Homo sapiens: one gene and its partners. The protein of the gene in region 2 purifies or fractionates together with the protein of the main gene of each other region. This does not show direct contact. Each region holds a gene or a part of one and is shown on either strand. Other genes may lie near its edges.

Region 1 (2,900 bases), on a different chromosome or scaffold from region 2:
AGCCTGTGGGGGCCTTCATGGCGGGTATTTCATCTCTGATCCCCAGGCCCTCACATGGGCCCGGCACAGAGAGGGCCCTCAGGCTGTTTGGTGACTCAAACTGAAGGGTCCTGGCCCACTCTAAGTACAAGATGAAAAGGGTTCACTTCCAGCTGGAGCAATCTGGAAGGCTTCCTGGGGGTGGTGGTATTAGAGTTGAGCCTTGCTTTCTCCTGGGGAAGGTGAGGAGGGATGCAGTTCAGAGAATGGGGAGCGGGGTGGCTCCTGCTTCCTGTTCAAAAGTAGTTGTGGGGAAGGTTGGAAAATGAAGGCTGAGGGCTTACTGTGGAGAGCGCTGAGGTGTTCTAGACCAACTTTTCTCTAGAAAGCTCTGGAAGTCTTCTAAGAAGCTCCCCTGAGGTGGAGGGTGGCAGCCTGACCTCAGTGAGGACCTGAGCCCCTGATCAACTAGGGGCTCCTAGAGACGGCTGAGGAGCATCTCAGACCCGAGGTCAGGATGGACTGAGGGAGGCCGAGGTGTGGCCTGGATGCCCCTGGGTGCCCCCTTCCCTGTGCCTCTGAAAGGGCTTTGAGTTTGGGGAAGAGAGGGCTGATCGGGCTTGCGCCTCAGTTTCGAGGTTTCTGTGCCCTGCATGTGTTGGGGCAGCCCCTCAGCTGGGGCTCACCATGTCCCAGCAGCCAGGGCAGAAGTTGGCTTTCCTGGGAGTGCATGTTGCATGAGAGCAGGGGCCAGCCTGGCACTTGGGGGCTTACCTTCCTGAAAAGGACTTCCAGGTCAGAGGGGCTCAGTCAGGAGGGGGCCAGAGCCCCAGGGGAGCCAAGAGCCCATGGTCACTTGTGGCACCAGGGACAAGGATCTCCTGCTGTACTAAGAGGCCCAAGAAAACTGAGTGTGGGACTGGGATGGGAAGGATTTGCTGCACAAAGCCTGGAAAGTTCTAGGGGAATAGGATGCCAGGCAAATTCTGGAGGAGGAGTCTCTCATTTATAAAGCCTGCCTCCCCAAAGTGGTCTGCCCTGCTACATCCCACCCGACTGGTACTAAGACGCTTCTGTGAATTCTGAGCCCTTGGCATCAAGATCCCCATGTTCCCTCTAATAGTAAACTTCCTGAGGGCAGGGGCTATGTCCAATAGGCTGTAGAACAGTGGTTCTCAAAGTGAGGTCCAGGAACCTTTGGGGTACCCGGGATCTCTTCAGGGGTCTGTGAGGTCAATTTTTTTTTTTTTTTTTTTTTGAGACGGAGTCTTGTTCTTGTTGCCCAGGCTGGAGTGCGGTGGTGCGATCTCGGCTCACCTCAACCTCTGCCTCCTGGGTTCCGGCAATTTTCCTGCCTCAGCCTCCCAGGTAGCTGGGATTACAGGCACACGCCACCACACCCAGCTAATTTTTTTTGTATTTTTAGTACAGACAGGGTTTCTCCATGTTGGTCAGGCTGGTCTCGAACTCCCAACCTCAGGTGATCCACCCACCTCGGCCTCCCAAAGTGCTGGGATTACAGGCGTGAGCCACCGTGCCCGGCCACATTGTTTCTGTAATAATACTAAGATGTTATTTGTCTTTTCACTTTCATTCTCTCAGTGAATGGTAGAATTTTCCAGAGGCTACGTGACACGAGATATCACAACAAATTGAAATCAGATGCACATATAAGAATCCAATTGTCTTCAATTAAGCCAAACAAAGAGATTTGCAAAAAGGTAGAACAATGCCACTCCTGACTACATTTATTTTGTTTTAGAATACATAACTAGTTGTCATAAAAATATATTTATATTAATGTAATGGGTTTGTTATAGCTATTTATAAATGAATAAATATTATAAACAAATGTATACAACTTACAACATTTTTCTGGCTTTTAATTTCTTTTTTGAGATGGAGTCTTGCTGAGTCACCCAGGCTGGAGTGCAGTGGCACGATCTCGGCTCACTGCAAGCTCCACCTCCTGGGTTCACACCATTCTCCTGCCTCAGCCTCCCGAGTAGCTAAGACTACAGGCGCCCACCACCATGCCCAGCTACTTTCTTTTTGTATTTTTAGTAGAGACAAGGTTTCGCCATTTTAGCCAGGATGGTCTCAATCTCTTGACCTCGTGATCCACCTGCCTCGGCCTCCCAAAGTGCTAGGATTACAGGCGTGAGCCACTGCGCCTGGCCCTGGCTTTTAATTTCTAATATAGTAAATAGCGATAGCTACAACTCACATTAACAAAAGCTCTTTGGGTTCCTCCATACTTTTTAAAACTCTAAGGGGCCCCGTGACTAACAAGTTTGAGAACTGCTGCCCCACAGTAAGTACAGTACATCAGCAGCAAATGTGCCAGCACTCCTCATGCTCATGCCCGCAGCAGACATGACTAATAGATCACATGCGTACTTTCCCCTGACCCAGAGTGTTCTTTCCCAGCCCCATACCTTTTCAAGATAACGAGGGCATGCATTGTCCATGGGAGGAGGAGGAGGGCCTGGTTGAGCTGCACAGCTTCCACTGTCCTCCGGGCCACCGTCTCCGGCTTCAGTGGGGGAAAGAGGTTGGGAAACCTGAACACAGGAAGAGACACAGTGGGTTTCTCCTGGAGAGGCATGTGCTTATCTGGAAGTCTTTATGAGGCTGACATGTCTGGGTCACCCTTTGGCTTTTCCTGTCTGAGAGATTCGAGGCCTGCTTGGAATACTCCCTCTACCCCACACCCATCCAGGTGCCACATTCCCTCACTCCTCCAGGCACACAGGGGTCTCTTCTTGAGTCAAGGACTTCTAGCCCACCCACTGGGGACCCACTCTCCCAAGCCCTCCAAGGGCTCCCAGTGCCCTAGGGCTTGGCCTTTCCATGGCCCTGCGTAATCTGGGCCCTGGTTGTCCTTCTGAGTCCTTTTCCCTACACTCTGCTCCTTCAGG
Region 2 (4,000 bases):
TTGCTTCACCACTTCATGAAATTGCTCTCCTCAAGGTCAATGAACATCACTTTGGGGACACAACCAGTCCTGCTCTGACTCTGCAAGGACATACAAGGGTCATCTAACCCAGATTTGAGGATGAAGGCAGGCTAATATTGCTGCTGACATTGCTGGCAATTCCTTTCTTTTTGACATACTCCCTTCTCTTAGCCTTTCCAGCGTTCCTTCTATTTCTCTGTTCCTTCTCTATTCCCTTTCCAGGTCCTCTTCCTCTGTCTGTCCCTTATGATGTTAGTGTTCTTCAGAGTTCTGTGTAGGCCTCCCCTTCACTTTTTACCTCATGGGTGATCTCATCGCTTCCCTTCTTTTTCAGTTTCCATCTATAAACCGACAGTTCCTGTAATCTGGGTTAGAGATACAGATCCCTCTACAGAGTGCTAGACTATCCAACCATTTAAAAGACATCTCTACTTAGATGCCTCAAACTCACCTCAAACTCCACAACTCCATAGCTCAACTCATCGCTTTGCTACCTCCCACCACTCCCCTGGCCATCTTTTCTCCTCCTGTGTTCCCGAGCTTAATGAAATGGTACCACCACTACTAGTTTACCCTAGCCAGAAACCTGGAAATCATCTTTGACTTCACCCTCTTTCATTTCCTTATCCTCTTATATCTAAATCAGGGTTTCTAAACCTTGGCACTTCTGACATTTTGAGGGCTGGATAAGCCTGTTTTATGTGTGTGTGTTGATGGGGTGGTGGGGGTGCTGTCCTGTGCACTGTACCATGTTAATAGCAACCCTGGCTTTTATCCATTATTTAGGTCCCAGAAGCAACCCCTAGAAGTGCCAGAAGTTGTTACAATCAAAAGTATCTCAATACATTGCAAAATGTACCCTGGGAGGGCAAAATTGCCCCCAGTTGAGAATCACTGACCTGTATCCATCAAGTCCTCCCTGTTTTACCTCCTGAATACTGTATCCCTTAAATTGATATACTTTTCATAATCTCCTCTACCACATTCTCATTTCAGGCCATCATCAGGGTAGATTAATCTACTAGCCTTCTAACGGGTCTCCATACCTCCAGACTGGTCTCCTCCAAATCATTCTCCACAATGATGCCAGAATGACCTTTCAAAGATCAACCCCCTTCCTATAACTCCGCAACATCTTCCTCCCAACCCACCATTAAACATTGTGAAGTTTCACTTTGCTCTTCAGATAAAGACAAATTCCTTCACATGACTTCCAACACACTTAATAATCTGGTCCCTTGTTTACCTCTCCAGCCTCGCCTTTCATCCTCTCAAACTCTATGCACTAGTTAGACAATTTCTGTTAGTTTTTCTATCACACAAACTGAACCTCTCGGGGGGTCTCTCAACCTGGGACATTATTCTCTCCATTTCCTCATCTGATCAACTCCTACTTATTTCTTCATGTCTCATTTCCTCTGGAAAGCCTTCCCTAATTCTTCAGAGCTGGGTTAGATGCTCCTCCCACAAGCTTACAAAATACTGTAAAATCACCTGACCACAGCACGAGGCATTGTAACTGGCTACCTCCTCTGTATACATTCCGCCCTTTAGATTGTAAAATCGGGACACAGACTGTCCCTTATCTTGCTCAAAAACCTCCAAAACAAGGTGCTTAGAAGGAATTATATTTATTTTTTAAAAAATAAAGGAATGTTTACTACAAAAGACACAATCTTTGGAGCTAATTCTCTCAAAAAGTTGTTTCTATATGGACAAGTAAAACCAACAGAATAAAGTGTGTGCCAGATTATCCGTTTAAAAATATCTGGGCAAAGTCTTCATGCTCTGAAAATGTCCACGCATCCCAACTGACAGTGGAATTCAGAGGCAATTCAATAATAGTTTGACCTCAGACCCACTCCCTCCAGCCTATTTTCTGCCAATCTAACAAACAGCTTTCCACAATTATCATTACCTATTTTCTACTAGTTTTCTCATCAGTATCGGTATTAGAGTGTGCAGGATTTAAAATCAGTATCTTGAAGGTGGAGAAGAATCCTTGTAATAAAAGCAGAGGCCACAAAATGTTATTTGTACCAACTACCTGGGTACCTGCAAACATAGGCCAAAGCATTCGGCCCTGTCATTCACTCTTTGCCCCTGGGAACAGCAAAGATACCGCTGGAGCCACTGCCTGTCAGTCCCCTAGGAGTGAGTCTGTCATCAGCACCCGGACCCTGCAGAAAGGCCCGTAGTGGGCGTATCCCCAGCTTCCCCGAGCCCCATCCACACAGAGCGGCCCTGCCTCTGCGAGCTGAGTAGCGATCGGGATCCTCTGCACCCGCTCCACAACGGCGAGGCCTCCCTGCCGGAGCTCCGAGGGGCGGCCAGGTCCTCACCCACCCCCGGCCGCGCGTCGCCGCCCACCTCGCAGTGCAGGAGTTCGGTGCCCGGGTCCTGCCGCCCCGCGATCCGGCAGAACACGCAGGTGCTGTCGTAGTCCTTGGGCTCTGGTGACTTGCCAGCGGCTTCACAGGTCCCCACTGAGGAAACCGTAGTTTCTGCAGTCGCCGAGGCCTCACAGTCGGGGGCCAGGCCGGCGCTGCGGTTCACCTGTTCCTCCGCCATTGCACCCGCCCCTCGCGGCCTAGAGCCTCGGCCTCTCCAGGGCTACCGGGCCCGCGCAGTCTCCGCGTCCCGCACCTCCTCCGTTTTACCTCGAGACGTCGCCCCTCGCCTGACGCTGGGCGGTGATCCAGGCTTTGGGGAGAGGGAAGGAGACGCGGTGAGGAACTTCAAAGCCGGAGGCCGGCCTCAAAACCGGCTGCCACTAGAGGGCGCGCAATGGCGCTGCCGAGAGTCGTCCTGACCCCTGCGCCTCGTTGGTAATGACGCACGACGTCTGCCAAGTCGCAGAGCGCCCAGCGCGTCGTGGTGACATCACAGAGGCGCGGGAGCGTTTGACATAATGGAGCTTGTTGGGTGTTCTGGACAGGCGTTCTTCAAAGCCCATAGTATAGCGTGTCCAAATATTGTATTACGCTGCCGTTTTTTTAAAAAAAAAAACAAAAAGTTTTTTAAAGTTTGATTTTTAAAATTCGTAGGTTTTTAAAGAATGAGCAAAATTCCTAAAGCCTTGTTTTCAACAGACATCATGTTTGCTGCTTTTTCAGCCACGATAATTGTAGGAGTTTAAACTCAAAATGTCCAAAACTGACCTTTACATCTCTGTTGACTTTTTATTGTTGTTAACAGCACAGTTAGATCAAACTAGCGACCTTTTTTTTAATCTCACATTCCTCATATACAAGTAGATGTGGAGTCCTATAGTCAATACTCTGAAATATCCCAGAAATTCAATGCCAGTGCCTCATAATGCCTCACCTAGACCAACGCAATCACCTTCTAACTTACTTATTGATTTTCCTGTCACTCAGACAAAACCTTCTGTAACTATGTGCTCAAAGAAAAAGTACCAGTTCCTTAGCTTGGTGTTCAAGGTGGACTCTGATTTGACCTCAGCTTTTCGTTTTGTGATACTTCCCACTTGCTGAGCATCTAAAACATGCCATATATTTCTCTAATTGTCAAAAAACGCAAGGTTGGTTTTATAACCACCGCTCTAGAGATGAAGGACCAAACTCAGAGTTGCCCAGTCCCACACAACTAATTAATAGTGACAGAGTTTAAGATCAAGGTTTGTCTAACTCCAAAACCCACCAACCTTTTTGACATACAGCACTCCTTTTTTAACACCAAAAAATTTGTTGGACTAGCTCACTATAGTAGTTACACCCTTGGTATTTGCTGATTTAGAAAATACATAACAAATTGGGAATTCAGTAATGATTTTTAATGGATTTATGTTGTAATAAAAAGTGGTTGTATGTGTTTTGAATTGTTGTACATATACATTCAAGACATTTTTCATTCCTTTTTGTAGTTGGCCCGTAGTTTGGGGAACCACTACAATAGCTTCACTGCCTTTCAGCACCCCAAAGCAGAGTTCAGAATCAATACATTAGAGTTTTGCCAA
Region 3 (4,039 bases), on a different chromosome or scaffold from region 2:
GGTGGCAGGCGCCTGTAATCCCAGCTATTTGGGAGGCTAAGGCAGGGAGAATTGCTTGAACCTGGGAGGTGGAGGTTGCAGTGAGCCGGGATCACACCATTTTACTCCAGCCTGGGTGACAGAGCGAGACTCTGTGTCAAAAAATTAAAAATAAAATGAAATTAAATAAAATAAAATGTCTTGTGATGAAAAACCAAAGCCAGGCTGGAAGCCACAGAGCACCAGTGGTGTTGTGACTTCACACTGGCAGGTCAAGAAAAGTTTCTCTGAACAGGTAACACCTATGCAGAGATCTACAGGAAGAAACACAGTGAGCCATGCAGTTATCTGGGAAGTGACCAACATGAAGGAAACAAATGGAGAGGCCCTGAGGCATCTTCAGGATAGTAACAAAAGGGGCCTTCCAACATCCATGAAGCCCACAGGGCAGGGCTGGAACACAGCAGAAAAGCCAGCAAGAGCTGGTGAGAGTCCCATTTCACAGAGGCGAGCCATGTGTGGGAGCTGGACCCAGATGTTCTACCACCTAGACCAATGTCCTTTGACTTCACAGGCTGCTATTTACGCAAGACCCCTCAGGAACAAGATGTGGCCTGCAGCCCTCTGGACCACCCCCTCAGGGCCTCACAGGCTAAGATTCCCAGGCAATCCTGACCATGTGACTTAAAGAGGGCACCCTCACTCACCATCCTCCAGGCCTCGGCCGCGGGGCCTGGGCTTGTTGCCCACCACTCCAGTGCCTGCATGCACCTCAGGGGTTTCAAATGTGGCTGGAGTCACATCTAGGGGAAGAGAGGGGGATAAGAATTAGAGTGAGCCTGAAGCGACAGTTCAGCAGGCTTTCCCCTCTCCGCCACCCACAGGGTCCTCATACAGGGTGGCGGGGGCTCCCGGGACATCTTGCCCAAGGCAGAGCCAAACTTGATGGCAATCTGGCGCATCCGTTCCAAGTCTCCATTCTCCTCGGCTTCCAGGTACTCCTTCTGTGCCTGGAGCTTCTCCACATCAGGAAAGAAATCCCTTTGGATGACCGTCTGGAGGCCCTGCAAGGAGAGATCAGAATGAAAGTCAGAGGCCAGGCGCGGTGGCTCACACCTGTAATCCCAACACTTTGGGAGGCCAAGGGAGGTGGATCATGAGGTCAGAAGTTCAAGACCAGCCTGGCCAACATGGTGAAACCCAGTCTCTACTAGAAATACAAAAATTAGCCGGGCGTGGTGGCAGGCACCTGTAATTCCAGCTACGTGGGAGGCTGAAGCAGAAGAATCGCTTAAACTCGGGAGGCGGAGGTTGCAGTGAGCCAAGATCACACCCCTGCACTCCAGCCTGGGCGACAGAGCGAGACCGTCTCAAAAAAAAAAAAAAAAAAGAAAAAAGAAAGTCGGAGCTGCAGTCTGGGTGCTCCTGCCTCACAGGTCCACTGCTGTACATGCTAAGGAACTTGCTGAACCTCCTTCAAATTCTACTTCCCCAATGACTGGGGCTGGATTGAGGGAGCTTGAGGGCACTTTCTAGTGGGGTTGAGCATCCCATATGGTAGCCATGCTGCAACCTCTAACATTACTAAACACTCTTCTGAAGTCCGTGAAACCCTTCTCTCTCGCCCTTGCTAACTGGTCATTCTCATTCTCCATTGCTGGCTCCCCACAAGCCAGACCAATGTGGGTGTTGTCACTTTCATTCCACACATGACTTTCTATTTCCAATCTAAACCTTTCTCCTGGCGGGGCATGGTAGCTCACGCCTGTAATCCCAGCACTTTGAGAGGCCAAGGCGGGCGGATCACCTGAGGTCAGGAGTTCGAGACCAGCCTGGCCAACATGGTGAAACCCCACCACTACTAAAAATACAAAAATTAGCCGGGCGTGGTGGCGGGCACCTGTAGTCACAGCTACTCGGCAGGCTGAGGCAGGAGAATGGCTTGAACCCAGGAGGCAGAGGTTGGTTACAGTAAGCCGAGATCGCGCCACTGCACTCCAGCCTGGACGACGAGCGAGACTCCGTCTCAAAAAATAAAATAAAAATAAACCTTTTTCCTGAGTAACTTCAGCCAGTCACTACCACAAGTTGAGATTCCCAAGTCTGCACCTCCAGCCAGACCTTGCTCCCGAGCTGCATATCTGGGCACCCAACCGTCCGTTAAAGCCATCCATCTACATATCCCAAAAGGTGTCCCGAATTAAACAGGTCTAAAACCAAACTGACTTCCGCCAATCCCCGTTTCAGCTCCTCCTTCTGTGTGCGTGTGGTGGGGCGACGCAGGTCCACTCACTCGAGATGCTGTCACAACTGCGGTCTCTTTCCAGGAACCCCAGCATTCACACTTGCTGCCACCGCTCTTTAGAAAGCCCTCTTTGCCACCATCCTTCCAGTTTGTCAAACTCCTACTCACACTTTAACAGAAAATCTTCTTTCCCTGACCCCCGTCCCATACAAAGAGAGCCGCTCTCTCTTTTCCCTGACAACACTACTACAGCCTCTTCCACCACAGACGTCTTCCTCTGCCCTGTTTACTTGACTCGTGGGACCGTCCACACCCGGCTCCTCCACTTCCACGAGGAGACGGAGTGTCAACACCCGAGAGAGGGAACCTGAGAGGAGCTTGAAGCAGAGGATGGGCCCAGAAGTCGCCGGCGTCCGCACCGAGGTCGTACCTCGATATACTCTTCCTCGTCCAGGACCCGCTGCTTGCTCGTCGCAGCCCCAGCCTCTCCCGCCTCGCGCTTCCTCGGGGGCCTGGACGCGGCGGGAAGCAACAAGGACGACGCTGATGCGCCCGGCGTCTCCATCGCTATCCCAGGAAAAAGCTCGGGCCCAGCAGGCGCGTCACAGGGTGGAGGGGGCGGGACTGCACCATTTGCGCAGGCGCCTCCAATAGTTGGCCAATGGAAAAGCTGTGGCTCTAGAAAGCCAGCCCGCGCTCCGTTCTGACGTCACTATAAATGCTAGACTTTATTGGAAATGTAGTCCTTGTCCTGCCCCGCGCTATTCATGCTTGTCAATGCTGTGAACACGAGGGGGTGCTGTGGAGGTGGCGGGGAGGATGCTATAGGGCGTGTTCTTCACGCGAGAAATTCTGGCTTTGCAGCGTCCAAAGGCCTTAGAATTCTAATTTCCCACAAATAAGAACTATGTATGCTTCGAGATTATTCTACAAAAATACAAACCAGGAAATTTACTTATATAGGAGTTTCAAGCTTTATGCAAGAAAAGGGCCTTAAAACAATTTTTTTTTTGAGACGGAGTTTCGGTCTTGTTGCCCAGGCTGGAGTGCAATGGCATGATCTCGGCTCACCGGAGTTCCCGGGTTCAAGGGATTCTCCTGCCTCAGCCTCCCGAGTAGCTGGGATTACAGGCATGGGCCACCACGCCCGGCTAATTTTGCATTTTTAGTAGAGACAGGGTTTCTCTATGTTGGTCAGGCTGGTCTCTGGATTACAGGCGTGAGCCACCGCACCCGGCCAAAACAATCTTTTTTTTTTTTTTATAGTTATCTAACAAAAGGTGAAAGAACAAGACAGTGGTTCGATTAAGAAATGTCTAAAGATTATTCTGTAATCCCAGAACTTTGAGAGGCCAAGACAGGCGGATCACCTGAGGTCAGGAGTTCTAGACCAGCCTGGCCAACAAGATGAAACCCCATCTCTACTAAAAACACACAAAAAAATTAGCTGGGCATGGTGGTGGACGCCTGTAATCCCAGCTACTCGGAAGGCTGAGGCTGGAGAATTGCTTGAACCCAGGAGGCGGAGGTTGCAGTGAGCTGAGATTGCACCATTGCACTCCAGCCTGGGTAACAAGAGCAAAACTCTGTCAAAAAAAAAAAAAAGATTATTGGGCCCCCAAATGCCAGAGTGGGCTTCCCAGAAGAGGGATCATTCTCATTCAAGACCAGGCACGGTGGCTCACGCCTGTAACCTCAGCACTTTGGGAGACCCAGGCAGGTGGATCACTTGAAGTCAGGAGATTGAGACCAGCCTGGCCAACATGGTGAAACCCCAACTCTACTAAAAAAAAAAAAAAATACAAAGTGGTGGTA
Region 4 (3,281 bases), on a different chromosome or scaffold from region 2:
TTGGCCTTTCGAAGTGTTGGGATTACAGGCGTGAGCCACAGCACCTGGCCAAATTCATCTTTTAAAAGTTGCTTAATCCCGGCCAGGTGCAGTGGCTCACTCCTGTAATCCCAGCACTTTGGGAGGCTAAGGTGGGCAGATCATGATGTCAGGAGTTCAAGACCAGCCTGGCCAATATGGTGAAACCCCCATCACTACTAAAACAATGCAAAAATTAGAAGGCCGGGCGTGGTGGCAGGCAGCTGTAATCCCAGCTACTCGGGAGGCGGAGGCAGGAGAATCGCTTGATCCCAAAAGGCAGAGGTTGCAGTGAGCTGAGATTACACCACTGCCCTCCAGCCTGGGTGACAGAGTAAGACTCCATCTCAAAAAAAAAAAAAAAAAAAATTGCTTAATCCCAGGTTTGGGTTTTCTGTCCTTGTGGCTGAAGGGACCCTGAGTGAAGGCTGCAGACTCATCAGGGGCAGATGGAAAAATACCAGGATTGAGCCTCTCAGAAGTGATGCTTGAATCCAGTCTTCAAAGATGAGGACTCCGGCAGGTGACGTGGCAATAGCGTTTTGGAGGGACCAGTCCAGATACACAGGCATGGAGCCATGCATTTGTTCCAGAAAGTGTATTTGGATGGAACCGGAACATGGAACAGGACACACAGCAGGATGCGGAGCAGTGTCAGATGAGGCCAGAAAGGTGGGTGGGACTGGTCTTCAGGGGCTCCAGATGAGGCTGAGGGGCTGGGCCTAGGTCCTGGAGTGGGGTCAGCTCTGGGACCCTTCTGGGGCTGTGTGGGGAAGGGGCTGGGGGCCAAGAGGTCCAGGAGGAGGCTGGCGATGAGATGGCTGGAAGCCAGGGGTTCAGGGAGGCCCAGGCTCCTGGTATCAGGGTTCACCGGCTATACTGAGGATCCCCTGCCCCTGGCACCCAGCTGTGGAGGGGACACTGTCTTTGAGGCATCACTGGTTCCACAAAAGGTAGGGGAAGGTCTTGAGGGACCACCCCATGCCCTCATTAATCAACCAGAAGCTTGGCCCGGAGCAGCAGCGGGGATTCCAGTAGCTGTGGGCATACAGGATGCTAGGGCGGCCACAACCCAGGCAGCTGAGGCCGAGCCACCTAGGAACGCAGGCTCAGAGCAGACCCTCTTGGGACAGACGGAGAAGGGGAGGGGGCGGGCTTCTCTAAGTTAAGCCGATCACTGAGCACCTCACTGGACACGAGAGAAGGCAAGCCCCTCGGAGGACAGAAGGGAAGAGCCACAGACTTGGAGGCTGTGAAAGTGGAGACAGGTGGACCTGGGGTGGCAGCAATGCGTGAAATGCCAGGCCGTGCCCCCGCCCCAGGAGCCCAACATGACACCAGCCCCCAGGGAAGCTGACTGTGCCACTTCATCCAGCGCCCATCAGTCGCCTTGGAGCATCAGGAATCCTGAGGGCTGGGGTCCCGGAGGATCACAGATGCTGGGGCACCTCAACCTCAGGGAGCCGCTCGAGAAGTTTCTTTTCTGAAGTGTCCACCTCCTTCTGGTCACCGGCTGGAGCTGGGACAGGTACATCGTCTGGAAATGGAGGGAGGGAATGGTGGCACAGGACATCCGAACCCCTCCTCCCCCAGGACCCCAGAGGCCCAGCCCCTCCTCCCTCACACCCAGGGGTCCAGCCCCCAGCCCCTCCTCCCTCACACCCAGGGGTCCAGCCCCCAGCCCCTCCTCACTCACACCCAGGGGTCCCAGCCCCTCCTCCCTCACACCCAGGGGTCCCAGCCCCCAGCCCCTCCTCCCTCAGACCCAGGAGTCCGGACCCCCAGTCCCTCTTCCCTCAGATCTGGGAGTCTGGGCCCCCAGTCCCTCTTCCCTCAGATCTGGGAGTCCAGGCCCAGCCCCTCCAACCTCAGACCCAGGGGTCCAGCCCTGCAGCCCCTCCTCCCTGGACTAGGGCCAGCACCTGTGTCTGGGTGGAACTTGAGCTGCCCCTCAGGGTGGGCAGCCGGGGCCTTGTGGCCTTGCTGCTGCTGCTGCTGCTGCTTCCGCTGCTCCATGTGCAGCACAGCCTGTGGGAGGTGGGGGGTCACACAGACAAGAGGGTGTGATGCTGGCATTGCAAGTGCTCAGGCCTCAGTCCCCAAACGGAGACTTCACAGCAGCCTGCTAAGTGGTCACGGCCAACCCCTTCTCCGTGGGCCTCAGTTTCTCTCTTTCATTGACAGTCGGGCTTAATAATAGTCAAGGATCCAGTTCTCCCTCCAGTCACAGCTTGGGTCTTGCTTTGGGACAGGGAAACCCTCACCCATCCCTGGCTGAGTCTGCCTTTCTCCCCCTCCTGGGCCTTTCCCTCCTCACTTACAGCCTTAATGCCCTTATCTCACATGGCAGCCACAGAGCCGTCAGAGACGGGAAAACGTCTGCCCTTACTCAAGATGGCGGTGAATACTTGAGGCTCCCCCAGTGATTAACATGGTGGCCACAGGCCTTCCCAGCTTCTGGACACCCATGGGGACACGGACACGGGCAGCCAGAGATTCAGTGGATGGAAGCAGCTTCCCCCGCTGTCACCTGCTGCAGCTCTCTCTTCTGGGCCTCCAGGCGGCCCTGGGACCGCCCTAGAGCCTCTGTCTCCTGGCTGAGGCGCTGGGCCTTGGCATTCAGCTCTGCCTCCCGGGCAGCCAGCTCCTCTTCAAAGCGCCTCAGCTCTTCCTCGGTGTAGGCAGGGTGCATCTCCACTGTCTGCAGGGCAGGCACAGGGGCCATCAGGGGCACAGGTCCAACCTCGGCCCACCCATGTTGGAGAGGGTTGTGCCAATGGGGGAGGTGTAGAGGAGGCTGGGAGGCCAGGGCCATGTGGGTGGGCAAAGAAGCCCAAGTGGGAGGTGGGAGTGGGATAAAGACCGAGAGACAAGGCCGGGCACCATGGCTCCCACCTGTAATCCCAGGACTTTGGGAGGCGAAAGTGGGAAGGATCACTTGACGCCAGGAGTTCAAGGTCAGCCTGGGCAACGGAGCGAGACCCTGTCTCTACAGAAAATTGGCTGGGCATCTTGAAAAATATATAGAAATAGGCCAGGCACCATGGCTCACACCTGTAATCCCAGCACTTTCGGAGGCCGAGGTGGGTGGCTCACCTGAGGTCAGTAGTTTGAGATGAGCCTGACCAACATGGAGAAACCCCGTCTCTACTAAAAATACAAAATGAGCAGGGCATGGTGGTACATGCATATAATCCCAGCTACTCAGGAGGCTGAGGCAGGAGAATTGCTTGAACCTGGGAGGTGGAGGTTGCAATGAGCTG

What was found. The genes of interacting proteins can lie anywhere in the genome.
Region 1: the proteins of HINT3 (region 2) and DHRS3 purify together in Homo sapiens (affinity purification with mass spectrometry; one large-scale study listed by BioGRID and IntAct). This does not show direct contact.
Region 3: the proteins of HINT3 (region 2) and ESS2 purify together in Homo sapiens (affinity purification with mass spectrometry; one large-scale study listed by BioGRID and IntAct). This does not show direct contact.
Region 4: the proteins of HINT3 (region 2) and NUCB1 purify together in Homo sapiens (co-immunoprecipitation; 2 studies listed by BioGRID and IntAct, with this or other methods). This does not show direct contact.

What each region holds. Positions count from the first base shown.
Region 1 is NC_000001.11:12,570,311-12,573,210, forward strand, and holds part of DHRS3 (short-chain dehydrogenase/reductase 3), read right to left. Parts: intron 2,544-2,900; coding exon 2,418-2,543; intron 1-2,417. UniProt on the Homo sapiens protein: Catalyzes the reduction of all-trans-retinal to all-trans-retinol in the presence of NADPH.
Region 2 is NC_000006.12:125,955,570-125,959,569, reverse strand, and holds the start of HINT3 (adenosine 5'-monophosphoramidase HINT3), read right to left. Parts: upstream 2,801-4,000; 5' UTR 2,593-2,800; coding exon 2,392-2,592; intron 1-2,391. UniProt on the Homo sapiens protein: Exhibits adenosine 5'-monophosphoramidase activity, hydrolyzing purine nucleotide phosphoramidates with a single phosphate group such as adenosine 5'monophosphoramidate (AMP-NH2) to yield AMP and NH2.
Region 3 is NC_000022.11:19,141,852-19,145,890, forward strand, and holds the start of ESS2 (splicing factor ESS-2 homolog), read right to left. Parts: upstream 2,801-4,039; 5' UTR 2,790-2,800; coding exon 2,655-2,789; intron 2,642-2,654; exon of another isoform or gene 2,273-2,641; intron 1,044-2,272; coding exon 875-1,043; intron 783-874; coding exon 687-782; intron 1-686. UniProt on the Homo sapiens protein: May be involved in pre-mRNA splicing.
Region 4 is NC_000019.10:48,920,592-48,923,872, reverse strand, and holds the end of NUCB1 (nucleobindin-1 precursor), read right to left. Parts: intron 2,720-3,281; coding exon 2,549-2,719; intron 2,047-2,548; coding exon 1,941-2,046; intron 1,556-1,940; coding exon 1,449-1,555; 3' UTR 501-1,448; downstream 1-500. UniProt on the Homo sapiens protein: Major calcium-binding protein of the Golgi which may have a role in calcium homeostasis. Acts as a non-receptor guanine nucleotide exchange factor which binds to and activates alpha subunits of guanine nucleotide-binding proteins (G proteins).